3 separate regions of the Homo sapiens genome follow, and all the other regions are linked to region 3. Evidence: fine-mapped expression QTL. A gene starts in region 3. Each other region holds a variant in brackets. All regions are shown on one strand. Distances are between the middles of the regions.

Region 1 (10,515 bases), 24 kb after region 3:
CATGTATCTCATAACATTACGCTGTACATCTTAAATATTCACAATAAAATTCATTAAAAAAAGAATTAGGATAGGCAATTCACAGATGAAGAAACTCAACGTATGTAAATATGCTCAATATCATTAACAATGAGGGAAAAGACAAGTTAAAAACAATGAGATGCCGGCCAGGCACGGTGGCTCATGCCTGTAATCCCAGCACTTTGGGAGGCTGAGGCCAGTGGATCACGAGGTCAGGAGTTCGGGACCAGCCTGACCAACATGGTGAAACCCTGTCTCTACTAAAAATACAAAATTAGTTGAGTGTGGTGGCAGATGCCTGTAATCCCAGCTACTCGGGAGGCTGAGGCAGGAGAATCGCTTGAATCTGGGAGGCAGAGGTTGCAGTGAGCCGTGATTGCGCCACTGCACTCCAGCCTGGGCGACAGAGCAAGACTGTCTGAAAAAAATTAAAAAAAAAAGAGATACCATTATATCCATTAATTTGAGAAAAGAATTTTAAGCTTGAGATATTATTTAATATTGCCAGGATATGGAATGGGAACTCTCATACACTTCTGTGGAAAGTATAAATTGGTATAACCGCTTTGGACAGCAATTTTATAATATGTGAAGTAGAAGATACATTGGCTGGATATGGTGGCTCATGCCCATAATCCTAGCATTTTGGGATGCTGAGGCAGGAGGATTGCTTGAGCCCAGAGTTAGAGAGCTGCTAGAGACTAGCAGCCTAGGAAACATAGCAAGACCCTGTCTCAAAAAAAAATTAAAAAGATACATATATGTCCCTAAAACCCAGAAATTCCACGTCCAAAGAAACTCTCAGCTGGGCATGGTGGCTCACGCCTGTAACCCCAGCACTTTGAGAGGCCAAGGCAGGCAGATTGCTTGAGGTCAGCAGTTCGAGACTAGCCTGGGTAACATCAGGAAATCTTATCTCTGCAAAAAAATACAAAATTAGCTTGGCGTGGTGACATGTGCCTGTGGTCCCAGGTGCTCAGGAGGATAGTTGGAGCCCAGGAGGTCGAGACTGCAGTGATCTGTGATTGTGCCACTGCACTCTAGCTTGGGCGACAGATTGAGATACTGTCTCAAAAAAAAAGAAGCTCTTGCATATGGAAACATGTGAAGTAAAACCAAAGATGTTTATCCATGTTCTTTGTAATAGTGAAACTGGTGGGGAGCGGGCGGGGCAGGGGGCAGGGATTTAATATCCATCAAGGGGGTCTCAAATGTGAAACATAAACCAAACATGGAAGAGTTATACAAGGTAATATTATACAATTAAAATGAATGAATATGGTTGAATCTTAGAAACACAGGGTTTAATGAGCTACAAAAGAATATTTATAATTTGACACCATTAATATAAATTAAAATAAACATAACCAAAACAATACTATGTACATAGCAAAGGTATAAAAACCATGAGTGGTTGTTCAGACTGGGAAGGTGAACTCAGTAAGTACATTTTCATCTGCAATTTTTTATTATTTAAATTTTATTTATTAATGTTTTTAAGAGACAGGGTCTTGCTCTGTTGCCCAGGCTGGAGTGCAGTGGTATAATCATAGCTCGCCGAAGCTGCAACCTCCCAGACTCAAACAATCCTCTCACCTCAGCCTTCCGAGCAGCTTGGACTACATGTGTGCACCACCACACCTGGCTAGTTTTTAAAATTTTTGTAGAGATGGAGTCTTGCTATGTTGTCCAGGCTGGTCTTGAACTCCTGGGCTCAAGCAGTCCTCCCATCTCAGCCTCCCAACATGTTGGGATTACAGACGTGAGCCACCATGTCTGGCCTCAATTTTTATTTCCTTAAAAACAGGTTTGATACAAATATGACAAAAATATCAACATTTGTTCATTTGGATGATTGGTACCCAGGTGTTTGTTATATTGGCCTTTTTTCTTATCAGCATATTTAAACTTTTTCAAATAAAGGAGTACTTCTAAATCACTACAAAAATATAAACACCCCCATCAAAAATGGCCAAATGATACAAAAAGCTAATTTGTTGCTAAAAAAGGGTCTTGATCCAGACCCCAAGAGAGGGTTCTTGGATCTCATGCGGGAAAGAATTCAGGGTGAGTTGTAGAGGACAGTGAGAAAAGACCATTTGTTAAAAGCTACTCTTACAGAATTGGGGGTTCTCAGGAAACAGGAGGAACGTGCTTACTTTTAACCTCTTCTTATATAGGAGTCTTGTCTATGTAAAAGGTAAACTAAATTATGGTTACGTGCAGGTGGGCTGACAGCATGACAAAATTTAGTACTTTGCTGATTTAAAGAAGGCTATCCTTGGCATTTTAGTGCATCACTTAAAAAAATATATTGTTATGTGATATTGGGACGTGTGTACATTCTGCCATTGCAGGAGTTTGTCCTTGCAAAAAAATACAAAATTAGCTTGGCATGGTGGCATGTGCCTGTGGTCCCAGATGCTCAGGAGGATAGTTGGAGCCCAGGAGGTCGAGGCTGCAGTGATTCGAGGCATTTTAAAGCTTTCTTTCTTTCTTTTTTTTTTTTTGAGACGGAGTCTCTCTCTGTCACCAGGTTGGAGTGCAGTGGTGCAATCTCAGCTCACTGCCACCTCTGCCTCCTGGGTTCAAGCAATTCTCCTGCCTCAGCCTCCTGAGTAGCTGGGACTACAGGCGCACGCCACCATGCCCAGCTAATTTTTGTATGTTTGGTAGAGACGGTGTTTTACTATGTTGGATAGGATGGTCTCGATCTATTGACCTCTTGATCCGCCCGCCTAGGCCTCACAAAGTGCTTGGATTACAGGCCTGAGCCACTGCGCCCTGCCCATTTTAAAGCGTTTTTAAGCTGTTTCCTCAACTGTAAACATCTTATGACCACCGGCCGGGCGCCCACCACCACACCCGGATAATTTTTGTATTTTTAATAGAGTTGGGGTTTTGCCATGTTAGCCAGGCTGGTCACGAGTAGCTGTGATTATGGGCGTGCGCCACAGTGTCTGGCTAATTTTTGTATTTTTAGTAGCGACGGAGTTTCATCATGTTGGCCAGGCTGATGTTGAACTCCTGACTTCAGGTGATCCACCCGCCTCAGCCTCCCAAAGTGCTGGGATTACAGCCGTACTTTGCTAGTTTTAAAATGGATTTGATTTTTAAACGGTGTCACCCTGGCTCCCCTATGCTCCTGTTTCCCTAATAAATTTATAGAGGAAGAAATACAGATGGCTCAGGAAGAGAGGAAAATACATACAACCTAACTAGACACCAGGAGAAGGAAAATGGAAACAGCAGTGAGCTGCCTTTTTGCTTATTAAGTTGACCCAACCAGGCCGGGCGTGGTGGCTCACGCCTCTAATCCCAGCATTTTGGCCAAGGCGGGTGGATCACCTGAAGTCAGGAGTTCAACACCAGCCTGGCCAACATGGTGAAACCCTGTCTCTACTAAAAATACCAAAAAAAAAAAATATATATATATATATATTAGCTGTGCATGGTGGCTCATGCCTGTAGTCCCAGCTACCTGGGAGGCTGAGGCAGGAGAATTGCTTGAAACCAGGAGGCGGAGATTGCAGTGAGCCGAGTTCTGCACTCCAGCCTGGGCAACAGAGTGAGACTCCACCGAAAACAAACAAACAAAATTGACCCAACCAAAAAAAATAATAATAACTAATGTGGAGAAATGAACACTGCTATCTACTAAATGGAGTATAAATGGGTACAATTTTGCGAAAGGGTGTTTTGGTAAAATATATGCAGCACATTCTTAAACTCACTTTCAATCTGTCTCAAATATTGGATTGGTTAGGATTACATTACTCTGAATAAGTTTTACCTTGTAAGAGTTAATTAACAGTAATTTGACGCAGGTAGAAGATTGTACCTTTCCATGTTGAAGGCGTGGTGACTGGGGTTCACAGTGACCTCAGAACCAGACCCCCTTTGAACTGTGGCCCTTTTGGCCTTCACTCTCCAGATCGCCTCACAGTTTCGTTCCTGCCCCAGCCATTACACCTGCATTCAAGCCGGCAGGATGAAGGAAAGGGAAAAGAAGGGGCAAAGAGTAACACCAGCTGTCTCTTAAGGAAGATTCCCGGAAGCTTCCATGTGATATGTCTGCCTTCATCTGGTGTCTAGAACCTAAATGTATGGCCCTGCTTAGTTAGAAGGGAGTCTGAGAAAGGTAGTTTTGATTCTGGACAGCTAAACTATCTTGTTTGTTTTTCTTCTGGGTACAAGAAGGAGAGAAATGACCGGGCACAGTGGCTCACGCCCATAATCCCAGCACTTTGGGACGCTGAGATGGGTGGATCACTTGAGGTCAGGAGTTCGAGACCAGCCTGGCCAACATGGCAAAACCCCACCTCTACTAACAATACAAAAATTAGCTGGGTGTGGCGGCGGGTGCCTGTAATCCTGGCACTTTGGAAGGCAGAGACAGTCGGATCACTCGAGGTCAGGAGTTTGCGACCAGCCTGGCCAACATGGCAAAACCCCATCTCTACTAAAAATACAAAAATTAGCTGGGTGTGGTGGTGGGCACCTGTAATCCCAGCTACTTGGAAGGCTGAGGCAGGAGAATCGCTTGAATCTGGGAGGCAGAGGTTGTAGTGAGTGGAGATAGCACCACTGCACTCCAGCCTGGGTGACAGAGAGAGACTCTGTCTCAAAAAAATAATTAAAAAAAAAAAGTACGAAAGAATGGATATTAGGAAATAGCAGTATTTGCTGTGGGTGTGTACTTTAATTTTGGTCTGGTCTTTCACGAGCCATATATATAGCACAGAAGTCCCTAACCTTTTTAGCACCAGGGATCGGTTTCCTGGAGGACAGTTTTTCCACAGACCAGGGTGGGGGGATGGTTTCAGGATGATCCAAGTACATTACATTACGTTTATTGTGCACTGTACTTCTATTATTATTACATTGAAATATATAATGAAATAATTATACGACCCATCATAATGTAGAATCAGTGGGAGCCCTGAGCTTGTTTTCCTGCAACTAGACGGTCCCATCTGGGGGTGATGGGAGACAGTGACAGATCATCAGGTATTAGATTCTCATAAACAGCACGCAACCTAGATCTCTCTCATGCGCGGTTCATAATAGGGTTTGCACTCCTATGAGAATCTATGCCGCCGACAGGAGGTGGAGCTCAGGCGGTAATGCTCGCTCGCCTGACACTCACCTCCTGCTGTGTGGCCCGTTTCCTAACAGGCCACAGACTGGTACCGGTCTGTTGGTGTTAAGGCCATCCTGTCCAGATGGCCTTAACCAGCCAGGGTGTCAACCCCCAGCTGTTGTGAATTTTAGTTGCTCTCGGATCACAACTTCCCCTTTCTCCAGAGAACTGTTCTTGGTCTACAGCTGTCTGTCACCTTACCAAGAAATGTCGGGGAGGTTACACCTGTTCTAGGGGAGAGGAAGACAGCCAATGACTTACCAACAGAAGGTCAAAAAGCCCAGCTCTTGACTCAAGGGAGACATCCCTGGAGTACAATTCTTATTCCAATTTCCTGCGTGATCAGACTAGATTCCAGCTGAAACCACATTCTTCACTCCCTCCCTGATATATATGATTCATTCCTGCTCCCTTCCTTCCTATTTTCTA[C/T]ACTTGTCTCACTTCTTGACATGTTCCTCTTGAGAACATACTCTTCATAAATTATGTACACAAGAATCCCCATCTTGGGCTCTGCTTCTAGAGAACATGACCCAAGACAAGTCCGCAGTTACTGGGTAGCAAGGCAAAAAAAGTAAGTTTCAGTCCTGTCCAACGACCGTAGTCTAATGCTAAAATTTGGTCAGTCCTTTAGGTAATGCCTAGTCTCTGTGGTAGATTGGATATTGTTCCCAATTCTTCACTCCCTCCCTGATATACATTATTCATTTCCACCCCATTGACTTTGAACTTAGCTCTAAGACTGACTTTGGCCCATGGAATGTTAGTGGATGTGATGTGAGCCAAGGCTAAAAATGTGCCTGCGTGGTTTGGTTTGGCTCTTGTAATCCCATCTTCTGTTATATAAAGAGCATGTCACAGTCACTGCCGGTCCTAGAATGAGAAGACTTGTGGAGTGGACTTGAATCCCGCTCACAGCCTTGAGCCAAGCCCAGCTGATTCTAGTTGAAGCCAGAGCCCCACAGCTGAACCTGCAACCTATGAGTAGAGAATCAACGCTTGTTGTAAGTCCTTTTATTTCGATGTAGTTATGCAGGAGAAGCATGACTAGTAGAGTCTTTTAAAAATAAATACTCAGGGCCAGACGCGGTGGCTCATGCCTGTAATCCCAGCACTTTGGGAGGCCGAGGCGGGTGGATCACGAGGTCAGGAGATCGGGACCATCCTGGCTAACACGGTGAAACCCCGTCTCTACTAAAAATACAAAAAATTAGCTGGGTGTGGTGGCCAGTGCCTGTAGTCCCAGCTACTCGGGAGGCTGAGGCAGGAGAATGGTGTGAACCCAGGAGGTGGAGCTTGCAGTGAGCCGAGACTGCGCCACTGCACTCCAGCCTGGGCGACAGAGCGAGACTCTGTCTCAAATAAATAAATAAACAAACAAATACTCAGATCTTTGGGTTTTTATACTTGTCCCATTTTCAGAGGGTGTCTGGATGAACAAGGAGAGGTGGGTTTATGTGTCTAGCTCCTACTTGCTGACGTCTGTCACTGAGGAGATCCATCTTTTTCTGTTTGAGCTGGGTCTGATGACTTAGCCTCTCATTGGCTTTCGCTTGCCTTGTGGACACCTCTGAGTCCTGGTTCTGCCCCCTCTGTTCCCGTCCATGCTGATCAGTCCACTCAGCACCCTCTGCGGCCCCAGGACAGACCTACTGACTCTCAGCATTTGCTCTACCAAGGATCATAACAGGAGGCCAGTCGAGGCTGTAACCCTGCTTAACCATTCTGCACATTACTCTTAACTGGATTCAAGCAGGGCCATTCTACATGGTGGCCTCCTTCCAGAATCCCAAATATGGAATAGATCAAATGCCTCCTGCCCTTGAAGCCCAGTTGAATTATCAAACTACCTCTGCTTCTTCATGATTCAGTCTAGAACAGAGAGACTAGGGCCCATGTATTCCATAGTCATTCTCTGCTACCTCTCCCTCATTTTCTTCTCCATCATACCCTCAGGCCTAGGCCTAGGTTTTGAAAGCACACTATGGAAGAAATGCTCCAACCTCAGAGTCTTCATATGTCAAATGAAAACTAAAGGAATTTAGAAAACGATTTTCCTCTTGACAACATCTTGCTTTGGAGCCTATTGATTTGCAGTAAAACTCCATTGTGAATGTCCAAAGCTGCAAAAAAAAAAATTCCTCTTTGCTTATCCCCTGCAATATATCAAATCCTCCCCACCACCTTGATGGAATGGATAAGTTGTGATAGACATAGAGATATGCGGCCCAGATCTCCCTTCAGGGAAGAACTTGCTGCCTGGCTGCAGAGAATGTGGTCAGTCCCTCCAAAGGTAGCCAGTGTGCAATGACTGAGTCGGGTGGAGGCATAAAGACCTCCCTCTTTGGGGTCAACATGGGACACTTTAATGAGCAATTCTCACTCAAAAACTCCCTGCCGTGTTGGCTGAAGCTTTATTAGGCCTGCATCACAGTTTAACTTCTTCCTCTCCCTAGTTTGGCTTCTGCCCCCTTCTTTTCCATAATAAGCGTGTTTTGTTTGTTTGTTTGCCTGCTTGCTTGCTTTTTGAGACAAGGTCTTGTTCTGTCACCCAGGCTGGAATGCAGTGGCATGATCACGGCTCATTGCAACCTTGACCTCCTGGGCTCAAGTGATCCTCTCACAGAGTTGGAATTACAGGTGTGAGCCACTACACCTAGTCTTTAAATCTTTAAAGATTTGAAGTATGGAATTGGAAAAGAGGAGACAAAATTATCTAGATTTTCAGGGGATATCAACATATACTTGTAAACTCCAAGGAAACCTTGTGGTGGATAGAAAATACTCATTTCCACCCTCTCCAGAAACCTCACTAAAAAGGTGGTAAAGAGTTCTCTTAAAGATATAAAAGACAAAGATAAAGGATATGAACAAATTGTACATATAAAAAATGTTGAGCTGAGTGTAGTGGCTCACACCTGTAATCCCAGTACTTTGGGAGGCCAAGGCACATGGATTGCTTGAGCCCAGGAGTTCAAGACCAGCCTCATCAACATAACAAGACCCTGTCTCTACAAAAAATTTTTTAAAAAATAGCTGGGCATGGTGTCACATACCTATAATCCCAGCTGCTCAGGAGGTTGAGGCAAGAGAATTGCTTGAGCCTGGGAGGTCGAGGCTACAGTGGGTTGTGTTGGTGCCATTGCACCCCAGCCCTGGTGACAGAACAAGATCCTGTCTCAAAAAAAAAAATATTAAATGAAAAAAGCAAGATGGAGAACACTGTACCTAGCATGCTATCATTAGTATAAACAAAAGACAGGTAGAGTCTGGATAACTGAGGGGAGCAGGAGGTCCCCAGGAAGGCCTGTTTTCCAAGGAAAGAGGAGGAACAGAGAGGACAGTGAGGGTGAGGGCGGCTGCTGTCTCCTAAATCTGTCACCTCCCCTTCTCTGCTTTGGCAGCCATTATGTCCATGGGTCTCTGGCTTGTCTTGTGCAATACTTCCTTGTGTTAAACTCCAAGATATCAATGGGCTGATGAGAGTTCCAGCGTGAGCTACGTGACTGGATGGGTGCTTGGAATAAGAATCCCATGCCCCAGAGAGCAAGACCAGCAAGACAATACTGACTAAGCCACTTTCCCCTGTAAGCCACCCTGGACCCACTTCTCAGTCCTAAGGACTAATGACATAAACTGGATGATGGTCACATAAAAATCTTGGTGAGATGCTGGAAGTCTAAAGTGGTCCCTTTGGGATCATAATGTAAGAAAGTGGCTTCAAGGCATATTTCAGCATAGAGTAACCTTGGCATTGGAAGCACTTTGCAAAAACATAAGAGGCCATGCTAACTCTTTTCATACAACAGAGGCCTGGCAGGTGACATTTCCAGAGGGAGAATGGAAGATTCTGAGAGCACTGCACAAGAGTCTCCCTTAGACACTTCTAGAACATATAGGAGGCTGTGGTAGAAGGGAACTGAAAGTTCAAAGTGTTGATCATGTGCACTGACTAAGCCTTTGTATTTAAAATCAAGATGACATCATAACGGCCTGATTTTCTTTCTTTCTTTCTTTCTTTTTTTTTTTGAGACGGAGTCTCGCTCTGTGGCCCAGACTGGAGTGTAGTGGCGCAACCTCGGCTCACTGCAACCTCTGCCTCATGGGTTCAAGCGGTTCTCCTGCCTCCCCAGGTAGCTGGGATTACAGGCATAAGGCACCGCACCTGGCCAACCTGATTTTCTTAAAAATAAATCTGGGTTTAGATTATTGGTAGAAACATTAAGTGATGTTGTGTCTTCTCAGTGCAACACACCAGTCAATTTTCACGTTGATGGTGATGCTAAGTGTAATCTGATGGTCAACGTGGTGACCTTCAGCTCTCTCTGTGGTAAAGATACGTTTTCCCTTTTGCGATTACTAAACAGCCTGTAGGGTGATACATTCAAACCTTATGAATATCATTTTTCCCAACCCCCTTTATCCTAATAGTTTTACATTCCATTGATGATGCCTGCCTGAATCAATTATTAATAGACTGGTCATAAAATGATGATTTTTCCATTTCTATCATTCCATCTACATTCACAATTTGGCATTCTTTTATGAAGAAGAGCTTTCTTTTCTTTTTTTTTTTTGAGATGGAGTCTCACTTTCTTGCCCAGTCTGGAGTGCAGTGATGCCATCTTGGTTCACTGCAACCTCTGACTTCCAAGTTCAAGCAATTCTCCTGCCTCAGCCTCCCAAGTGGCTGTGATTACAGATGGGCATCAGGACGCCTGGCTAATTTTTGTATTTTTAGTAGAGATGGGTTTTTGCCATGTTGGCCAGGCTGGTCTTGAACTCCTGACCTCAAGTGATCCACCCACCTCAGCCTCCCAAAGTGCTGGGATTACGGGTGTGAGCCACCTCACCTGGCCCTCTTTTCTACCCCCTTTAAAATTTTTGGTGTTGGCCAGGTGCAGTGGCTCACGCCTGTAATCCCAACATTTTGGGAGGCTGAGGTGGGAGGATTGCTTGAGCCCATAAGTTCGAGACCAGCCTGGGCAACATAGCAGGATCTTGTCTCTATTAAGAAAAATAATAATAAAATAAAATACCATTGTTGGTTGTTTTATTTATTTATTGTGGTGGTTGTTGTTTTGAGACAGAGTCTCTCTCTGTTACCCAGGTTGAAGTACAGTGACATGATCATAGCTCACTGTAACCTCGAACTCTTGGGCTCAACTGATACTCCTGCTTTGGCCTCCCAAAGTGCTGCGATTACAGGTGTGAGCACAGGCCAAAATTTTTGGTGTTAATATCAATAGAGACACATGGATTCCTTTTGATTCAATATATAATAATCCATTCCTGCATTATTCATATGAGGCTGAGATTGTCCCAGATTTTGACATGAGGGCCTCCATAAAAAT
Region 2 (10,515 bases), 160 kb before region 3:
GTCAAGGTCATGGTTCGCCCCCTTTTTCCTTCCCCAAATGGCCCTTGCGCCCTGTCCCCTTTCCTGGACCGGCTGCGACCCGCCCGGGGACGCGCCTTTTCGGGGCGCTTAGTCTCCTGCGAGTAGGGCGTGTGCGCGTGTGGGTGCGCGTGCTGCGATGCGATCCGGCAAATGCAGCTGACGAACCCCTGGCCTGATCCACGGTGGCTCCCAGTAGAAGGCTCTACAGCCCTTGGAAACGGAACACGCAGCTCCGTAAAGCGCTAACCAACCTCCCGACCCCTCCGGCCGCCATCGCTTTCCGGCTCAGCCGCGCTGGGACGGAGTCCTCGGCCACTGTGCCCTAACCATGGTAGAGGAACGGGGACAGGCCGGGGCAAGCCCACCTCTGCGAAGGAAGGGCTTCTGGCGCGTTGGGGAAGCCTCATGCATAGATTGGGTGAGTAAGGCTGGCCCAGTTCTCCTCCCGGCAAGATAAGAACGCATTAGGAGGGAAGCGCTGGAGTGCTCCTCTTGGCGACGGATGGCCTGGGGCTCTGCGACAGACTGAGTACCCCACCCTCCCCCAGCGCGACTCCAGGAGGCCTTGTGGAAGATCCCAACACCATGACCTGCAACTGACTTGGGGCTGGCCACATAGTATTTTAGCAGGGGTGACTCTGGAGAGACACCAGGTCATCCTGCGCACCCCTTGGGACCTTTCCTAGACGCCCTCCAGCTAGAGCTCCAGTCCAGGCACTGACTCCCGGGTGGCGGGTGGAGGCTGAGGAAGAGCTGAAGGACACAGGCGGATGTCGCCCCCGGAGCATGGCTGCATAGGTGGCATGCAGGCTGGATCCCTGAAAAGCCACCTTGCCACCCCCAGTCTCCCCCATCTGGGAATGCCTTGGCTTCTGCACCTGCTCCCAGCAGCTCCCAAACACCTGGTCCTTCCAACCCACTTGTTCCAGGAAAGCCTCTGGGATGGAGGGCGCTTCCCCTTACCACAGTCTCCTCAGCGCTCCTCAAAGGACCTAACCCCTCAGCCCACTGAGGAAAGAGGAGCCCATGACCAAGCCGCCCCTAGTCGGCTATGGGCCCCCTCTGTCCGCTCCCTGACCGTCTCTCAAAGGAACTGGCACTGAGCCCTTCTCTGCTACACCTGTGCTCTGCCCCTGCGGTTCTGTTCCCTCGGCCTTCCTGGAGGGAACCCCTGAGGCCCACACGCCTGCTGCCTCCAGACTGACCGTTTCAGAGGCTGTTTCCTTCAGTCCTCCCACCTGCCTCCTGTCCTGTGTAGATCGTCTGACGCTGAAGGCAAATACTGGTGCCCCAGATCTCCTGTCCTGTGCCCCACTGGGTCCTTACATAGGCAGGCAGGTTGAGGGACCCAGACGCAGGCACCCACTTTCCCTCTCATTCCCTCCCTTGGGGTCTCAGACTTTACTGGGCTGTGGACTTGAAACTGTAACCGCTGGGTTCCACAAGGCGCACTTAACAGTTTTCTGCTGTCCTCCCCTGATGCCACTTATCTTGCCTGTGGATTGTAGAATCTGGGGTCTGAAGTAAATGTATAACATCTCATTTTTAGGCCGGGCTTGGTGGCTCACACCTGTAATCCCAGCACTTCGGGAGGCAGAAGTGAGAGGATTGCTCAAGCTCAGGAATTCGAGACCAGCCTGGGCAACACGGTGAAACCCCGTCTCTACTAAAATTACAAAAACTTAGCCAGGCATGGTGGCATACGCCTGTGGTCCCAGCCACTCAGCAGGCTGGTGTGGGAGAATTGTTTGAGCCAGGGAGGTCAAGGCTGCAGTGAGCCAAGACTGCATCACTGCACTCCAGCCGTGGTGACAGAGAGAAACCCTATCTCAAAAAAAAAAGGGCTCATTTTAAAAACAAAACATTCCCCGGCCGGGCGCGGTGGCTCACGCCTGTAATCCCAGCACTTTGGGAGGCCGAAGTGGGCAGATCACAAAGTCCAGAGATGGAGATCATCCTGGCAAACCAACATGCTAAAACCCCCTCTCTACTAAAAATACAAAAAAATTAGCTGGGCATAGAGGCGCATGCCTGTAGTCCCAGCTACTCGGGAAGCTGAGGCAGGAGAGTTGCTTGAACCCGGCAGGTGGAAGTTGCAGTGATCCGAGATCGTGCCACTGCACTCCAGCCCAGGCGACGGAGCGAGACTCCATCTCAAAAAAAAAAAAAAAAAAATTTCCCTTAAAGCCCCTTGCCCTCCGGGTGCTGCCTTATCCCTCAGCTACATTTAAGAGGAAGTTTCTCCAGAGCTCCATGCCCCTCCCGCTATGTCTCTTCAACCGACTCATACCTGTCTTTTGTCCCCACCACACCACTGAAACTGCTGAGACTCCATCTCAAAAACAAACAAACAAAACAAAACAAAAAACAAAAAGTAAACCAGGTGCGGTGGCACATACCTATAATCCCAGCTACTAGGGAGGATGAGATGGGAGGATCCCTTGAGCCCAGGAGTGTTGAGACCAGCTTGGGCAACATAGGGAGACCCACCCATCTCAAAACAAACAAAAAACCCAAAGGAATGTTAAAGGCAGATATCTCCATGGAGGCATTTCAGGCCTATGACGCCCTCCCGAAGCTCTCTTCTCCATCCTCCATCCTCCATTCCACTCAGGCTTTCTGGTCTAGCCTAATGGGCATCCCAGCCAGATACTCCCGACTCCCCTCTGCCTCCTTCCTCTCACCCTGGATGGCCACATTTCACTGAGTCATTTTATTTCTTTGATTTTTATTTTGTTGAGGCAGAGTCTCACTCTGCCACCCAGGCTGGAGTGCAGTGGCACAAACACGGCTCACTGTAGCCTCGATCTCCTGGCCTCAGGCGATCCTCCCACATCAGCTGGGACTACAGGTGTGCACCACTGTGCCTGGCTAATTTTTTTTTTTTTTTTTTTTGAGAGAAATGGGGTCTCACTCTGTCTCACAGGCTGGAGTGCAGCGATGCAATCTTGGCTTACTGCAACCTCCGTCTCCCAGGTTCAAGTGATTCTCCCGCCTCAGCCTCCCCAGGAGCTGGGATTACAGTCATGCACCACCATGCCTGGCTAATTTTTTTTTTTTTTTTTTTTTTGAAACAGTTTTGCACTGTTGCCCAGGCTGGAGTGCAGCGGCGCCATCTCGGCTCACTGCAAGCTCCACCTCCTGGGTTCACGCCATTCTCCTGCCTCAGCCTCCCGAGTAGCTGGGACTACAGGCACCAGCCACCATGCCCGGCTAATTTTTTGTACTTTTAGTAGAGATGGGATTTCACCCTGTTAGCCAGGATGGTCTCAATTTCCTGACCTCATGATCCGCCTGCCATGCCTGGCTAATTTTTGTATTTTTGGTAGAGGGGGTTTTGCCATGTTGGCTAGGCTGGTCTTGAACTCCTGGCCTGAGGTGATCCACTGCCTCGGCCTCCCAAAGTGCTGGGATTACAGGCATGAGCCACTGTGCCTGGCATTTTTTTTTTTTTAATTTTTGTAGAGATGGGGATCTCACCATGTTGCCCAGGCTGGTCTCAAGCTCCTGGGCTCAAGCGATCTTCCCACCTCAGCCTCCCAAAGTGCTGGGATTACAGGTGTGAGCCACCGTGCCCAGCCTTATTTTTATTTTTTTATATTTATTTATTCATTAAGACAGGGGCTTGCTGTGTCGCCCAGGCTGGAGTGCAGTGGTGAGACCACTGCTCACTGCAGCCTCAACCTCCCAGGTTCCCGCAATCTGCGCACTTCGGCCTCCCAAATTGCGATTACAGGTGTGAGCCACGGCACTCAGCTGAGTCCTTTTATTTCTACCTCGGGTCTGCAGCATCCTGGCTGCCATAGCCTTCCTTGGACCCTTGGCAGGCATGGCTTCCCATACCTCGCAGCCAGCCGCTCTCTCTGAAGTCACTGGGATTTTACCAGCCTCTTGGGGCTCCCGCTGCCTTGACCGGTGTTCTCAGCCTCTGGTAGCCCTTCTCCAGCTGCAGCTGCTCCGCCTCCTCGCTGTTCCTGGGGAGGAGAGGTGCTGTTCCCACGCTCTCTCTCTATGATTGAGGACTTGTCATCTGTAATGGTTAGTTATTTATGGGAGCCCTATGTCCAGCTCTGAACCAGGCCAAGTGACTGGGCTCAGCTGCCCACTGAATCAACTGCCTGATACTCCCTGGTGGTCTAACTGGACCCCAACAA[T/C]CATGCCAGTCTCCTGTTCCCCTCCAAATATTTTTAATTTTTTTAGACAGGGTCTTTCTCTGTCACCCAGGCTGGATTACAGTGGCGCAATCATAGCTCACTGCAGCCTTGACCTCCTGGGCTCAACTCATCCTCCCACTTCAGCCTCCCAAGTAGGTGAGACTACAAGCAGGTGTCATCACGCCTGGCTAATTTTTTTATTTTCAAAATTTTTGGAAAAGACGGCCTTGCTGTGTTGCCCAGGCTGGTCCTGAACACCTGGCTTCAAGAGATCTCAATCTTTGTTTAGACTGTCTTCCCCCACGCCATAACTCTTCCTGTCCCGTCAGCTTTTGCTTTCTATCCGTGGGAGCCCAGCATGAGACTGGTTGTCCTGGTAATGCTGCAGGGTGCTGGGAGGGGGAACATAGCCTCCACTGGCCTCCTCTCTTTCCTGGGGGGCATCTCCCGGCCCCTTGGGTAGGTGGAAGGACAACCCTTTGGTGCTCAACAAACACAGCAATAAGCCCTCTCTCAGTTGCCATCTACCCCTACTGAGAGAAAGATCCAGGCTACTATAACATAAGGGCATCCAGGAGGGCAAGGAGCCCCTGCCCTGCAGAGGGTCAACAAGGACCTGCTACCCTCAGGATGGCATCTGTCTGCCCCGCCCCTCAGTCCATACTCACAGTCCAAAGCTAGCATGGGCAGGAGTGGGCTAGGGCTCTTGGCTCACTGATTCTAAGAGCTCATGAATTCCAGGCATACAGACTGTCAAGGTCTTGTGGCAGGCATGCAGCAGACCACTGGGCAGGAAGATTCTGGGGCTGCCCCACTGCCCTCCTGTCAGGCCTCTCTGCCCTCCACAGCCCAGCCTCTCACAACCAAACACTGGCTTCCTTCCCCACCCTCACCTACCCCCAGGCCCTACTCCATCAAAATCCCATCACCTGCTACCCAAGGAAGAATTCTACCTGGTGACCCTAAGGTTCTCTGGGTAGACTGTCACCTCCTGGCCATCCTTGGCCAATCTGTGTCCCTCATGTCTTCCTCACCCATGGCTCTCCTCGCTGGTCCCCATCCTGCTCAGGGGCCTGGATGTCACCATTGGGGGCTGATGTGGCCTGAGACCCCATCCAGGTCACCCTCCTCTCCAGCCCCAACTCCTCCCAGGAATTTGGAGGCACAGGGAAGAGAGAGGTGGTGGGGAGGCCCAGGGCAACACCCTGGAGCAAGACCTCCAGCCTCTTTAGATCTCTGATCGTTGTTATCTATAAAACAAATAAGCTGGAATGGAGTTTTCGTAGCTAGAAAATTCCATGAATTTTGTCTCAAACTGAAATAATCTTATCAAACCATCTTTCCAGTTCCTGTTGTCCTTATTTCTCTATTTGTACATTCATCCAGGCATGAAATTTCAGAGTAGAGATGAAAAGTTTCTTAAACATGTCCAGTCATGAGAGGAAAACAAAAATCACACTTTATTGCTGCAGGAAAAGCAGTAGTAATTTGTGGGATAAAATGAAAATTATTCACACTTTATTTGGTTAATATATATATAAATATATTTTACAGATTTACAGTCATTTATGAGTAGGACATAAAATTTATTGAATCTGATGTAATTTTTTAAAAAACCAAACTCTTTTAGCTGGTCAATTTAGGAATGCAGAGGCCTGGGAAAAACAGGAATAATTTGTGGATAAACAAATTTATTTTTCATCAAATTTTTAGAGATGAAACAAAAAAAGTATTTGGATTTGTTTCAAAACGTTGGGTTTTTTCCACTTGGGCTTTTTCCACTTTTACCTCGAGGTCATCTCCTTAGCTGTTGCCTAGTTAGTCATGGTCTTGTCAATTGTTCCTTCAAAATGGCTCTCCAGTTGGTCCACTTCTCACCTCCACCCACGTGGAGCAGCAGCCCATTCCCCACATCACAGTCTATATGACCTTTCTTTCTTCTTTTTTTTTTTTTTTTTTGAGAAGGAGTCTCGCTCTGCCACCCAGGCTGGAGGGCAGTGGCACCATCTAGGCTCACTGCAACCTCCACCTCCCAGGTTCAAGCAATTCTCCTGCCTCAGCCTCCTGAGGAGCTGGGATTACAGGTGCCCGCCACCACGCCCAGCTAATTTTTGTATTTTTAGTAGAGACAGGGTTTCACCATGTTGGTCAGGCTGGTCTTGAACCCCTGACCTCGTGATCCACCCACCTTGGCCTCCCAAAGTGCTGGGATTACAGGTGTGAGCCACCACCTCCGGCGTTTTTTTTTTTTTTTTTTTTTTTTTTGAGATGAAACCTCGCTCTGTCGCCCAGGCTGGAGTGTGATGGCACGATCTCGCCTCACTGCAACCTCCGCCTCCCGGGTTCAAGTGATTCTCCTGCCTCGGCCCCCGCGAGTAGCTAGGATTATAGGCACCTGCCACCACGCCCGGCTAATTTTTGTATTTTTAGTAGAGACAGGGTTTCACCATGTTGGCCAGGCTGGTCTAGAACTCCTGACCTCAAGTGATGCGCCTGCCTTGGCCTCCCAAAGTGCTGGGATTACAGGTGTGAGGCACCGTGCCTGGCTCTACATGACCTGTCTTTTTCTCTTTTTTCTTTTTTTTGACCTTTCTTTTGTTTAAGAAAAATAGATTCTCAGACAGGATCCCATGATCACTGGTATCCCTGGGTTGTGCTGAGGCACTATAAAACCAAACAATGGGCTGGGTGCAGTGGCTTACTCCTGTAACATAGCACTTTGGGAGGCCAAGGCAGGAGGATGACTTGAGCCCAAGAGTTTGAAACCTGCCTGGGCAACATAGATAACATCTCTACAAAAAATGCAAAATTTGGCCCAGCATAGTGGTGTGCACCTGGAGTCCCAGCTATTCGGGAGGCTGAGTGGGGAGGATGACCTGAACCCAGGGAGGTTGAGGCTGCAGTGAGCTGTGATCTATAGCCTAGGCTACAGAGTGAGACTCTGTTTAAAAAAAAAAATGTAGGTTAGCTGGGTGAGGTGGCACATGCATGTAGTCCTAGCTACTCAAGAAGCTGAGATGGGAGATTACCTGAGCCCCAGGAGGTTGAGGCTGCAGTGAGCTATAATTGCACCACTGCACTCCAGCCTGGACAACAGAGTGAGACTCTGTCTTAAAAAAAAAAAAAAAAAAAAAAAAAAAAAAGCCAGGTGTGGTGGCTTATGCCTGTAATCCCAGCAGTTTGGGAGGCTAAGGCTGGTGGATCACTTGAAGTCAGGAGTTCAAGACCAGCCTTCTCAACATAGTGAAACCCCTCCTCTAGTAAAAATACAAAAAAAAAAAAAAAAAGTTGGGTGTGGTGGCATGTGCCTATAATCCCAGCTACCCGGGAGGCTGAGGCAGCAGAATCTCTTGAACCCAGGGGGTGGAGGTTGCAGTGAGCCGAGATCTCGCTGCTGCACTCCAGCCTGGGCGACAGAGCGAGACTGTATCCAAAAAAAAAAATAATAATAATAAAAATCAAGTAGGTGTCTGACTTATCAGAAAAGCTCAGAAACTGCAGGGAGATGCGTAATGCTGGTTTAGGGGAGCAAGCCGTTCTGTGGGGGGCCCACCTCTCAGATGGGCCTGGTATGGAGACCCAAGGCCAGGCTAATCAGAAAACTCCATTCCTCCTGACCATGGTAATTATTCAGGGATGAGAATGTGATCCTTGCCTATGGGACCCTGGTGCTGCTGGTGGTGTAAGGGAAGCTTGCTGCAGGGGAAGAATGAAGCCACCGAAGATAGAGGGTTCTGATGACATACTAGTGCCTGCGCCTGGCTGACCTGTAGCTGGTACTAGTCTGGACTCCTGCAGAAACCAAGCTGATCTCTTTCTGTCATGGGCTGGAAGTGGGTCACATGGTCATGTCTTCTTTGGGTATAACTTTTCCCTAGAGTGTAGGATAGAGATTAACACTGGTGTTTCTCTGTGTTCCTTGGCGGGCTCTCTGATTTTCAGCAGCTCCACATGAGATCTGCTCTAAATCACTTTTCACAATCGACTCTGCCAGGATTCCCTGACTCTGGGGCTCCCACTCTGGTAAGCAGCACTAGGGTTTCAGTAGTCCCCTGTCCCTACTGAGAGCTCCAGGTGGAAGATGGGATCCTTTCCCCATCCTCAGGTTTCCTGGCCTCTAAGTCCCTCTGAGAGCCCTTCACCATTTACTGTCTCCCCATCGTTCTGGCAATTCCTAGGGGTTAATCCCCAAACCCTAGAGGTTTTGCCGTAATGCAACCGCAGGCGCTCCATCAAAGTTCAAACCCCGGCCTGCAGGATGGGGATGCCGGAGGCTCTGGGGAAGAGGTTGTGAAAGGGTAACACTGCCGCCAGCCCCCTCCCCCAAGTCTACCAGGCCCTTCCCGTGCAGATTTGCATTTGGTTTGCACAGGACTAATTTATCTCAAGGAACTTCCAAACCTAAGACCACCATCCCAATCACCTGAAGCTATCTGCGGAGGCTACACCCTTTCCCCCGGGCCAGCTTCCACATCTGCCCAGTGGGGCATTTCCCCTTGTCCCACCCAGCGACTGGTTGACAGGAAGCAGGGTGTCTATGGACTGGCGGCGGGCGCCCCTTTTCCTCACCTCCCTGCGCGGCCAGCGGGGGCCCGGGGTGTGGTCAGGTGGGAGGCCCGCGCCACGTGCGGCAGGAACCGCCTGGCGAGTGGAACCCGAGCTTGCACGGGGACAGCTGATGCCTTTCTGGTCGCTCCTCTAGAGCTCCGCGGGCTCCGGCAAACCCCCCCGTTAGAACTTGCGGTTCCAACGCGCAGCGCCAAATCTGGCCCTTACTTGACCCGTCAGCGCCTCCAGTCGTCCCCATGTATAAAGTAGGACCGAGGAGCCACCTCGCCAAGCTTTCACTGCGCGGAAACGCGCCCATCAGGCTGGAAAGGCGTGGTTCCTACTACAGCTCGGCCGCGGCAGGCTGGGGCCGAGAACCGGCACCCGTGCACGGCGGACTAAGACGAGGGTGAGGGACACGGGTGGGCCGGGAGAGCCCCGTTCCCATAGCCGGCTTCCTTGAGCCCCTCCCCAAGTTCTGGGACTCCCCAAGTTCCCACCCCGCAAGCCAGTGTGGTTTCTTCAGATGAATTTTATTCTTACTCTCCACGGGCTGCTCCGGCGTCTAGGGAGGGAGTGTGAGCTCCGAGGACTTCCCGCAGCATCCCCACCAGAGGCGTCCAGGGGAGGCTGAGGGCCGGCCCCCGTCACCCCCGCCCCAGGAGCACACGGGACTGAGTGTATGGCACAGGCATCGTCTGGAGGCCTTGCTTGTTCAGTGATAGTTTATTGGTCCTTAGCATGACATCTCGATTACCAAGGTAAATTCACATACACAACTGCAGGTAAAAACATGTAAAATAATATAAAAATAAATTGAAGGCTACTTTTATATATTTACTGAATTAAGTAGTGTAATAAATACTATGATAAGCAAAAAGCTTCAATCGCACAATTCAGTTTCACTGAAGTTACAGTAGTGTTTGTAAATACGAGTTTTAAAATTTAAGTTACAAATATTAAAGCACTGAAAAACTAGTATAAAAGTGAATTTTGGCACGTAAGTGAGCTCTTATGTCATTAGTATTTGACATCCTGGGACAATGAGGAAGCCAGTTCTCACCTACTTTTTTGAGGTACAACTATCCAACTAGATCAGCAACACGGCTGGAATACTTCGTAGTTTACAATCTTTGAATTGAACTTTTCCCTTTTGAGAAGCCCAAGGAGCAACCCAGAGCTTCTTACTGTGCAAAAATTCTCCAAAATCCTAATAGAATTTAGGAGGGAACTTTTTCTTGCGACCTGAAGGGCCCAGTGTCCAGGCTTCAGGTCAGATAGCCCCCAGGGCTCAGAGGGGCCGGCTCAACTCCTTGCCAACGGCCCTTCCCTAGGATAATAATCCCATTTCCTCCAATTTCTGTCTCCTTCTTCCAATCAAAAACAGAAAAATCCCATGTAAAAACATAAAATAACCCGTAACTTCAGCGACTTCAACATTATCCCACGCACTCTGGGTGATATAAACTGAAGCTGCTAATAGGAAAGTTAGCAAAAAGCATGTAAGCCCCGGGAGGACTGCCTGTCCCTGGGAACCCACCCCCGCTCTTTGCTGGGTCCCTGGATCCACTTCTAAGGTCAAAAGCAGTGTCATGGCCATTCCTTTGGAAACAGCAGAAGACCCTGCTCCTCCCACCTGGAGCGCCGCCTGGAGGAATCAAGTGGATACTGACCTTCACAGAACAGAGAGGCCTGGCAGGTTCCAGGAGGCATCCCCTGGCCTCAGTCCTCAAAGAGCTCACAGTGCACCGCGGGTGTGCCTTATCAGTGGGGCAGAGCAAGTGGCCCCAGG
Region 3 (10,515 bases):
CTCGGTCTCCCAAAGTGCCGGGATTACAGGCATAAGCCACAGCACCCGGCTGATGAACCACTTTCTTACCACCTAGCTCGCAACTATGACTCTTCATTCTCTGAATACCCATGAAATTTAACATAGCCCACAGCTTCACCTGTAATTATTATCTTTCATTCAATAAATAATTACTGAAGCAGTGTTTCATAATAGCTAACAATAGCAGTTCATACTCAGCGAGTCCTATGTGCCAGACACCAATCTAAGCAGCAAGGGAAACAATGTGAGAAATGGCAATTAAAAATAGTCCCAGCCCCCTGATACTTTCCAGGGGTGATAGAGAAGATCCTTCCCAATGACCCTCTTGACAATAAAGAAATCCTACCTATGTCACCCAAGCTACCTCGGTATGGGGAGGGGGTGACCGTGGGGAGGGCTCCCCCGCCCCCTTTTGATACAGAAAGATCTGTAGAATCTTTCTATAGAAGATGGTAGAAGGGACGCCAGCACGGGAAATCCTTAATCAGACTGTTTTGCTAGAGCACATCCTCCAGTAGCTTCTTCATAAAACGGGCATGTGAGGTCAAATTTTGAGAACTTACATGTGTGAAATATCTTCATCCTTTCTTACACCTGCCTGAGAGTTTGGCTGGGTGCAGAATTCTGGGTGGGAATCTATTTTCCTTCAAAAGGCACTCTTTGCTCCACTACTTTCTAGCTTACAATCCTGCTAGAATCCTAGCATTCCTGATCCTATCTATGTGACTTACAGATATTGTCTTCATGGTGCTAGAAAATTTCATGATGCTATGCCAGGACATGCATATTTTTATTTTAAATTGACAGATATATATATGTATTTGTGTACCTGATGTTTTGAAGTATATATACATTGCGGAAAAGTTAAATCTAGCTAATTAACAAATGCATCACCTCACATAGTTTTTTTTTGATGAGTACACTTAATATCCACTCTGTTTGCATTTTTCAAGAATATATAATCATTAACTATAGTTACCATGTTGTATAACAGATCTCTTAAACTAATTCCCCTATCCAACTAAAATTATATATCCTTCAATCAACATCTCCCCATCCCCGCTACATCCTAATTACCACCATTCTACTCTCTACTTCTATAAGATCAACTTTTTTTTTTTTTCTTGACACAGGATCTCACTCTGTTGCCCAGGCTGGAGTGCAGTGGCATGAACGCAGCTCGCTGTAGCCTTGACCTCCTTGGCTCACATGATCCTCCCATCTCAGCCTCCTGAGTAGTTGGAATCACAGGCGCATGCCACCACGCCTGGCTAATTTTTCTTTTTTTGAACTTTGTAAAGATGGGGTCTCGACATGTTACCCAGACTGGTCTCAAACTCCTGGGCTCAAGCAATCCTCCCACCAGGGCCAAGATCAACTTTTTTAGATTCTACCGCATATAAGTGAGATCATGTGGTCCTGGCATGGATATTTTAAAATTCATTGTGCTAGATTCTTCGCAAGTCTTTTCAATCTGGAAACGTATGTCCTTTGGTTCTAAGGAATGTATTTATTTTTTTATCATTTCTTCATGTCTTCAAACAATAACTACCTGCTATCTCTCCCTGTTACAGACATCTACAGGTCCCTAGGTCATTCTGTTAATTTATGATAACCTCAATCTTCACCACAATCTTTACCTCTCAGTGCCTTGATTCCCCCACTTCCAATGGTGGTGTCCTCCATCCTACTTCAGCTATTCCCTTCCACATTGCCACATCCAAGCAGCTCAACACAGCTGCAGGAAAAGTGTACAACTATGCTAAGTAGGGTCTCACCTAGGTTTACAACTACAAACATCAAATGGGCACTAGGTGCTGCCTGGAAATCCTAAAACTTTTCCTTATTTTCAACTCATTCTTCCCCATTCTCTTGGATGAATCCAACACCTCTCTTCATTTTTAGCTGAAGACCTTCCTTCTTATTTACCTGAGAATACAGAAGTAATCAGAAGAGAACTTCCACTTTCTCCCACCAACAAGCTACCAGCATTTGGGTTCACATAATCTGCCACCAATGAATTGTTGGCATTGCTCCTGTCTAACTTGAGGCCAACATCCCCATTTACATACTAGATCCCATTCCATCTTACCTACTCAAGGACTTCACCCTTGCAAGTGTCACTTCTCTTTAATCATCAATTGTCCCTCCCTACTGCATCAGCCCATCAATTTACAAACATGCTATAATATCTGCCCATATAAAAACAAAAAGAACTCGACACCTCATGATCTTCCAACTACAGCCCCATTACTCTACTCTCCTTATAACCATCCTCAAAAGAACATCAATATGACTGTCTATATTCAGTGTCTTCAATTCTCCTCTCATTTTCTGCTTTGTAAATTAATCAATTTATGTTTTTTAGAGACAGGGGTCTTGCTATGTTGCCCAGACTGGACTTGAATTCCTGGACTCAAGGGATCCTCCCACCTCAGCCTTCCGAGTAGCTGACCTACAGGTGACTGGCTTCATTTTCTCTTGAACCCACTGCACCAAAACTGTTCTTGTCAAGGTCACTAGTGACCCTCCACATTATCGAATCTAATTGTCTATTATTAGTCCTTTTGTTTTCTTGAGATGGAGTTTCACTCTTGTTGCCCACACTGGAGTGCAATGGCAAGATCTTGGCTCACTGCAACCTCCACCTCCCAGGTTCAGGTGATTCTCCTGCCTCAGGCTCCCGAGTAGCTGGGACTACAGGTGCCTGCCACCATGCCCAGCTAATTTTTTTGTGTGTATTTTTAGTAGAGGTGGGGTTTCACCATGTTGGTCAGGCTGGTCTCAAACTCCTGACCTCAGGTGATCCACCCACCTTGGCCTCTCAAAGTGCTGGGATTACAGGCGTGAGCCACCGTGCCCAGCCTGATTACTAGTTCTCATCACACTGTCAACAATCTCATTCGGCTTTCAATGTCTGTTCTCAATTATTCTCCCACCTCAGAGGTAGGAAACCATTTTCTCTCAGAACTTGGAAGACACTGCTACACTGCCTTTTCTTCTTCTAGTGTTCTTAATACTAATAAATGGCAACTCCATTCTTTCAATAGCTGAGGCAAAAACCGACTAGGCCTTCTTGTATTATTGTTCTTTCGGCCGTATTTCTTCCTCAGTACTTATGACTCACTATTCTATATTATGATTTCTACTGTTACTGTCTCTTCCCCTTTACAAAAGAGTTATTTGAGGGCAGGGGACTGCTGTATTTATCTGACTCTACAGCACCTAACAGAGTACTTGTTGCATAATTTATATAAATAAACAGTGAAATTTAAACTATTAAAGAAGTTTCAAGCAGGAACAGATCGCTCTACAGAAAAACATTTTGAAGTAGAAAGTATCTTTCAGCTAGATTTCCACTGGTTCCTTAGCATTGATCCAGATAGGTTAGTTTATACCTTGGTAATAAGTCCAAAATCCCGGTGGTGTTTCACTTCTTGCTCAACCTACCTGTCAAGCATAGGTCACCTGGAAGCTAGCTCTGGGGCCTTGACTGATGGGTGGCTGCCATTTGCAGCCCCAACAGCTACCATGACAGAAGGAAAGAGAATGGAAAACTACACAACAGAAATTTGTACCATGAAAGGCTACACAGTATTCCCACGCATTTCACTGACCAAAAGCAACTCTTAAGGCCATACCTAACTTCAAAGAAGCAAGCAAGTAAAATTCTACTACATGCTCAAGAGACAGAAACCAAAAATACCTGGTAAGACTGATGACTATCACATGCTTAAAGAGAAGCCTCTCATTCTGAGTAACAATATTTTAATTCTTGATCTCCATTCTCCATCTGTGAAAATGAACTACCGTGCTAGAACCATACACTTGCAGAGTACTATCTATGGGTCTTAGGAATGTCACTTCACCAGTTAGGTTTGCCCCTTCCATCACTCAGCAGTCAGCAGCAAAGCCATATATGGGTGACAGGAAAGTGCTAGTAACATTCAATGTCAAGAGTAAGGGAAAGGCTTGAATGGGCAAGAAAAGCACGTTCAATCATGTAGAAGTGGGGAAAGGAGGGAAGCCTTCAGCAAATTTCTTTCACCAAAGGTATTGGGGGCAGCTAGGCCTTGGGGTTCCTTGCACTATTCCTTGTCTGAAATCAAATTTTATTCAAACCACTTGATAGAAGATTTGGAGTTCGGGTATGATCAGTAAAGTGAGCCAGCATACTTCTTTGAACATAGAATCACTACCTTTAAAAGAATAAATAAAAAGCACATGGCCATGCTACTAAAAACAAGAAAGGCAGCATTTAAGAGACAGATTCTAAGGTAGAGATGATTTTTTTCCCCCTAAAGATCTCAACAGACTCAAATCCAAATTCCTAAGCTCAAGATGATCTGGGATAAACCTCAAGTCCACACAGAGCCTAGATTTAACGGATGGCTGTTCTAAAGTATCCTATGCAATGTCTATACAAGTTCAAATACTTTCTGCTTCAGACAGTGAAACTGGCAGAAATGTTGCAAAGGATTGGAGATGCGTTACTATAAGCAGTTAAACTTGGAACTGTAAAGCCCACAAGGAATTACACTGAAGGGCAGAGCAGGAGTTCAAAAATGTCACCTGACAGATTCGAAGCAATTTAGGACTCCTAAATGCAATGTTTCATTGGTATCTACCCCCCACCTTCTCTATCCTTTATTTGTTCAACAAACATATACTGGATTCTGGGTTGTGGAAAGGAATGCAGGGAAGTAAAAAAGAAACAGGTTTCTAAGAATCAGTTTCTTGTTCTCCAATAATTTGGTCTAGTTAAAGCAAACAAACAACCCCAAAAATCAGATCAGCAAGCAAAGTTAAAACATATGCCTTAAGTACCATAACAAGAATATAAGAAAACTGTTTTAACATGTAGATTGGCAACCTCCTTTCAAGGGAACAATATATTTGCTTTGCTATGTGGCTAGAATAAGAAAAAGCAAACAACAACAAAACCCTCTCCTGTTTTAATGACAGTTTAGCAGTACCAAAGCTCATCGCTCGCATTCCCCCTCTCCCTCTCCTTCTCAAAGGTCTCTGCTGCAACCCCTCCATCATTCCAACCTCCACACTGCGCCGGCGCCCCACACCAGCTCCATCACAAACAATGCCCAGACCAACAAGATCAGCACCAAACGCATAGGGCACAGAAATCGGAAACGGATCTTCCTATATCTAAAGGGGGCGGGGAACGCTCCCCACGATCACCCCCTCCCCATACTGAGGTAGCTTGGGACTGTGTCTCTACGGTAAGGGGCCTGGCGTCCGCCGCTTTCGGAGGTTCTAGGCCTCTTTCCCCTATTTATCCAGTTTTTCCTCCTGCGTCCCTAATACCTCTACTTCCTCCCAACCCGAGCTCCCTATTGTGGAGTGAGGGGGCGTCGCGATGCAGGCTGAGGCAGGGGGAGCTGGGGAAACGCGCGACAGGGGAGATGCTGTCATTATGTACGTAGGGGGCGGGGGACACTCTTTAAGGAAGCCGTTGTCAAGGGCAAAGGCTCTAGAGACCCACGGGAGGGGGCTTTCTAGGTAATCCATTTGGGGGTTCTACACGAGGGAGCTATTGTGTGTGTGGAGGTGTGAGGTCTGTAGAGTAGCAGTTTCTGAGGGAAACATTCCCTGGGGAAGGCGAGTGAGTTATTCATAGGGAAGCCTCTGTGGGGTTCTGTGTAGAAGAATCCTTCCTGGGAGAAACGTTCTATGGGGGTGAGGACGTCATAACAGTGTCTTCACAGGGAATCGCTGTCCCTAGGGAAGCCATTGTGGGGAAACCGTTGCAGGGTTGTCTGTGGGGGAGCCATTGTGGGGAAACCGTTGCGGGGTTGTCCAAAGGGGAGCCATTGTGGGGCCTCTACAGAGGGCGCCGTTCCTGGGAAAAATTCCTCCCTGAGCCGTTCAGCAAAGAACCGTCCCGAGGAAGCCATGTCGGACCACGCCCTGCGGCGGGAGGCGTCGCCGGACCCCGACAGCCCGCATCCCCCGCCCGGCCGCCCCTCGGCTGCCTCTGCCCCGCGTACCTGACGGAGGGTGACCCGCGGCTGGAGCCGCCAGGGGACCGAGCGCGGGGCAGCCCCTGCCGGCGCGGGGGGTACACGTCCATGGCGGCGGACGACTGGCGGCGGAGGAGGACGGTGCAGCTGCGAGGGTCTCAGTTGCCCGCAGGGCGGCTCCACGCTAGCTGCGGCCGGGCGGGGCGGCAGGGCGTGCCGGGTGGGAGGGGGCGCGGCGCGCGGGCCCGGCGGGGGCGGGGGCGGGGGCGTGGAGGGGGCGCGCGCACCGAGAGCGGATGGGGGCGTTGGGAGCGGCTGGAGTTGGGGGTCGGCGCACGGCCACAGGGACCCCACTTCTTAAGCTGCGAGGCCGCCGGACCGGATGTTGGGAGCGCGTGTCCGCAGGGTGAGGGTTGCCACAGCGCCGCCCGGCCTCGTCCTCAAGCCCGGCATCATAGAGCGGGGCTCTGCGCGGCGCCCCCCGGCCACGCACACGGACGCGCCCGGGGGCGGAGCCTCTCCCAGCCCGGCCCCGCCCCTCCGCCTCTGCCCGCCCCGCCCCGCCCGACCAGCCCCGGCCTCCAGCGAAGTCTTCCGCTCCGGCGTCAGGATCCAGCGCACCTCCCCAGTACCCAGCGCACCTCCCCAGTACCCGGCTCGCTTCCCTGTTCTCCGGAACGGTGTCTTCCCGCTTCCTGGTCATCAATTCCGCACCCACCCTTCAAACATCCAATAGATTCCTAGCCGGCCTCGGGTTAGCGCAGCAGTGCGCACCCAGCCCTGCGCAGGGCATGAGCGTTAGAGGCGCACAGGATCCCAGAAGACCCCTAACCTTTACTGTTAAGATCCTAGCTCTACCGGTTTCTGCAGGGACATGTACAAGAAACTTGGGAAATACTGCACTGATAGTTGCCAGGAGTCCTGTATATACAGGACGTATTTAATGATTATTGGCCTGCGTCCTTCGTTGACCTCGTCGGAATGCCTTAAATGTCCTGTATTCATCTTTTTACACTAAATTGCAATAATTAGAGCTATTTTTCTCCCACAGTAATTGGTGCTAGATCACTTAAATTACAACACTGGCTGAAAATCCTTCCTACACTAATGAAGATTTGGACAATCCCTATGGTGTCTCCTTCAGGTTTGGCTGAGGGAAGACCAGAAGGGAGTAGGAATTTAAAGTGCTCGTCTTTCATATTCAAGAAAGGAAAATACTTTTTTAGCTCAAGTCCGGAGTCGTGAACAAATAACCACCATTATTTAGAGATAACTTCTCGTCGGTGCAGCAGCTCTGAAAATCAGCCAATCAGCGATAGCCTCACTCCGGTAACTATGCTTCTTAGTAAATCAATGACAACCCCACGCTTCTGAAAGTCAGCCAATCAGTGACCGCTCTAAGCCTCCGACAATAGCCAATCAACAAGTGCCTGACACCAGCGACCAGGCTTCCGAAAGTCAGTGGGTACTCAGCTGCCGCACTCCACTTCTGATTCGGAAAGACAGCCAATCCCTGAAGGCGAATATTTCCAAAACCATTTTTTTTTCTTTCCCAGACTGAGTCTCATTCTGTCGCCCAGGCTGGAGTGCAGTGGCGCGATCTCGGCTCACTGCAACCTCTGCCTCCCGGTTCAAGCGATTCTCCTACCTCAGCCTACCGAGTAGCTGGGATTACAGGCTCCCGCCACCACGCCTGGCTCATTTTTGTATTTTTAGTAGAGACGGGTTTTGCCATGTTGGCCAGACTGGTCTCAAACTCCTGACCTCAGTTGATCCGCCTGCCTTGGCCTCCCAAAGTGCTGGGATTACAGGCCTGAGCCATCGCGCCCGGCCTTTTTTTTCTTTTTCTCCTTTTTTTTTGGAGACAGAGTCGCACTCTGTTGCTCAGGCTGGAGTGCAGTGGCGTGATCTCAGATCACTGCAACCTCTGCCTCCTGGTTCAAGCGATTCTTGTGCCTCAGCTTCCCAAGTAGCTGGGATTACAGGCCTGTGCCACCAAGCCTGGCTAATTTTTTGTATTTTTAGTAGAGACAGAGTTTCGCCATGTTGGCCAGGCTGGTCTTGAACTCCTGGCCTCAAGTGAATCGCCAGCCTTGGCCTCCCAAAGTGCTGGTATTACAGGCGTGAGCCGCGCCCGGCCTTCAAAACCTTTTATAAGATCAGCTCTGGCTTTGTTCAGAGAGGCTGTACCTTACAAGTACCGCTCTCCCTTGCAAGCAGAGAAGAAATTCACTTTTTTTTTGCATCAGATATTGAGTTCAATTTATTGTTTTGTCCGAGTTCAAAGTTCACAGCTCAAGATTCAATTCCCAGTTACTATTTGGTATGAGTTTGGACTTATGACAGACGCTATGACACCGTCATGAGATTTATCAAATACAACTCTTTCAATTCTTTCTATGCTTGCAGTGATCAATTTTTTAGCTCAAGTCCAGAGTCATGAACAAGTAACCACCATTATTTAGAGATAACTTCCCATCGGTGCAAAAGCTCTGAAAATCAGCTCTAAAAACAATTCAACGGGGCTACACGTGGTGGTGCACGCCTGCAGTCCCAGCAATTTGGGAGACTAAGACAAGTGGATTTCTTGAGCCCAAGAGTTTGAGACCAGCCTGGGCAACGTGGCAAAACCTCATCTCTCTGTCTCTCTCTCTCTATATATATATAGTTTATTTATAAAAATATATATTTATATTATAATTTATGTATACAAATATATTTCATATATGCACACACACACAAATTGGCCAGGCATAGTGGCATGTGTCTGTAGTCGCAGCTATTCAGGAGACTGAGATGGGAGGATCGCTTGAGCCTGGGAGGTCTAGGATGCAGTGAGTTAAGATCAGGCCACTGCACTCCAGCATGGGGGACTGAGTGAGACCCTGTCTCAAAAAAAAAAAAAAAAATCAATGAGTATAGGCACAGATTTGTGCAACCACCACCACAATCAATTTTAGAACATTTTTATCACTCCAACAGGAAAATCCTGTACCTATTAGCAGTCATTCCTCCATTTCTTCCCAACCACCCCAGCCCTAGGCAACCACTAACCTTTTAATTTGCCTATTCTGGACATTTCATGTTATCAGCATCATTCAATATATGGTTTTTCATGACTGGCTTCTTCCATTTAGCATAATGTTTATAAGGTTCATCCATGTTGCAGCATGTATCAGAATTTTGTTCCTTTTCATGGTTGAATATTATTACATTGAATGGATATACCACATCTTGCTTATCCATTTATCTGTTAATGAACAGTCAGATTGTTTCCACTGTTTTGCTATGTTTTGTAGCTAATGCTATTATTAACATTTGTGTACAAGTTTTTTTGTGGACACACAGTTTGTTTCCTTGGCGATCTAGGAGTGGGTTTCTGGATCACATGGTAACTCTACGTTTAACCTTTTGAGGAACTGCCAAACGGTTTTCCAAAGTGGCTGCACCATTTATATTCTCACCAGCATCATATGTGGGTTCTAATTTTTCCATATCTTCCCTAATACTCATTATCTTTTTCACTATAGCCATTTTAGAGGGTATGAAGTGGTATCTCATTGTGGTTTTGGCTTATATTTCCTGATAGCTAATGATGTCAAGCATCTCTTCATGTGCTTATTAGCCATTTGGACCTCCTCCTTTTTTTTTTTTTTTTTTTTTTTTTGAGACGGAGTTTCACTCTTGTTGCCCAGGCTGGAGTGCAATGGCATGATCTCAGCTCAACGCAACCTCTGCCTCCCGGGTTCAAGCGATTCTCCTGCCTCAGCCTCCCGAGTAGCTGGGATTACAGGCATGCGCCACCGCGCCCAGCTAATTTTGTATTTTTAGTAGAGACGGGGTTTCTCCATGTTGGTCAGGCTGATCTCAAACTCCCGACCTCAGGTGATCTGCCCACCTCAGCCTCACAAAGTGCTGGGATTACAGGCATGAGCCGCCGTGCCTGGCCTATACCTCTTCTTTGGAGGAATGTCTGCTCGAATTTTTTGACCATTTTTACTTGGTTACTTGTCCTTTTATTATGTTGTGGTAGCTCTTTATATAGTCTAGATATAAGTACCTTATCAGAAATACAATTTGCAAAAATTTTATCCCATTCTGTGGGTTGTCTTTTCACATTCTTGATATTGTTGTTTGAAACACAAAACTTTAAAATTTTAATGATATCCAGTTTATCAATTTTTTTCTTTTGTTGCTTGTGCTCTATGTGTCATAACTAGGAAACTATTGCCTAATCCAAAGTCATGAAGACGTACCTCTTACATTTTCTTCTAAGAGTTTAATAATTTTGGCTCTTACATTTTAGATCTTTGATTAATTCCAAATTAATTTTTCTATATGATGTGAGGCAGGGATCCAACTTGATTCTTTTCCATGTGGCTATTCACTTGTCTCAGCACCATTTGTTGAACAGACTATTTTTTTCCCCATTGAATTGTCTTGGTACCCTTGTTGAAAATCGATTGTGTTATCTATTTCTTTATTTGTGTATATGTGAATCCACAAATGCCAAATT

The links. PIP is the estimated chance that this variant, and not a neighbour inherited with it, causes the effect.
Region 1: its variant is the best candidate, but not a certain one, in a credible set for the expression of DNAAF9 in monocytes (Quach 2016, PIP 0.83).
Region 2: its variant is the best candidate, but not a certain one, in a credible set for the expression of DNAAF9 in lung (TOPMed, PIP 0.67).

The regions. Positions count from the first base shown.
Region 1 is chr20:3,425,329-3,435,843 of GRCh38, forward strand. LOC105372508 (a long non-coding RNA gene) reads right to left here and starts at 5,528. Exons shown (of 3, transcript XR_937212.3): 1 at 5,426-5,528. The variant C/T (reference allele first, on the strand shown) is at 5,594.
Region 2 is chr20:3,239,872-3,250,386 of GRCh38, forward strand. DNAAF9 (dynein axonemal assembly factor 9) reads right to left here. Exons shown (of 37, transcript NM_001009984.3): 37 at 9,435-10,515. Among named protein-coding and RNA genes, the nearest start is that of SLC4A11, 5.9 kb to the left of the region's middle. RefSeq lists enhancers at 8,262-9,007, 9,008-9,752, 10,412-10,515. The variant T/C (reference allele first, on the strand shown) is at 4,176.
Region 3 is chr20:3,401,449-3,411,963 of GRCh38, forward strand. DNAAF9 (dynein axonemal assembly factor 9) reads right to left here and starts at 6,221. Exons shown (of 37, transcript NM_001009984.3): 1 at 6,027-6,221. The coding sequence starts at 6,109. RefSeq lists silencers at 5,885-5,964, 6,025-6,264, 6,305-6,554 and enhancers at 6,545-6,744, 7,121-7,622.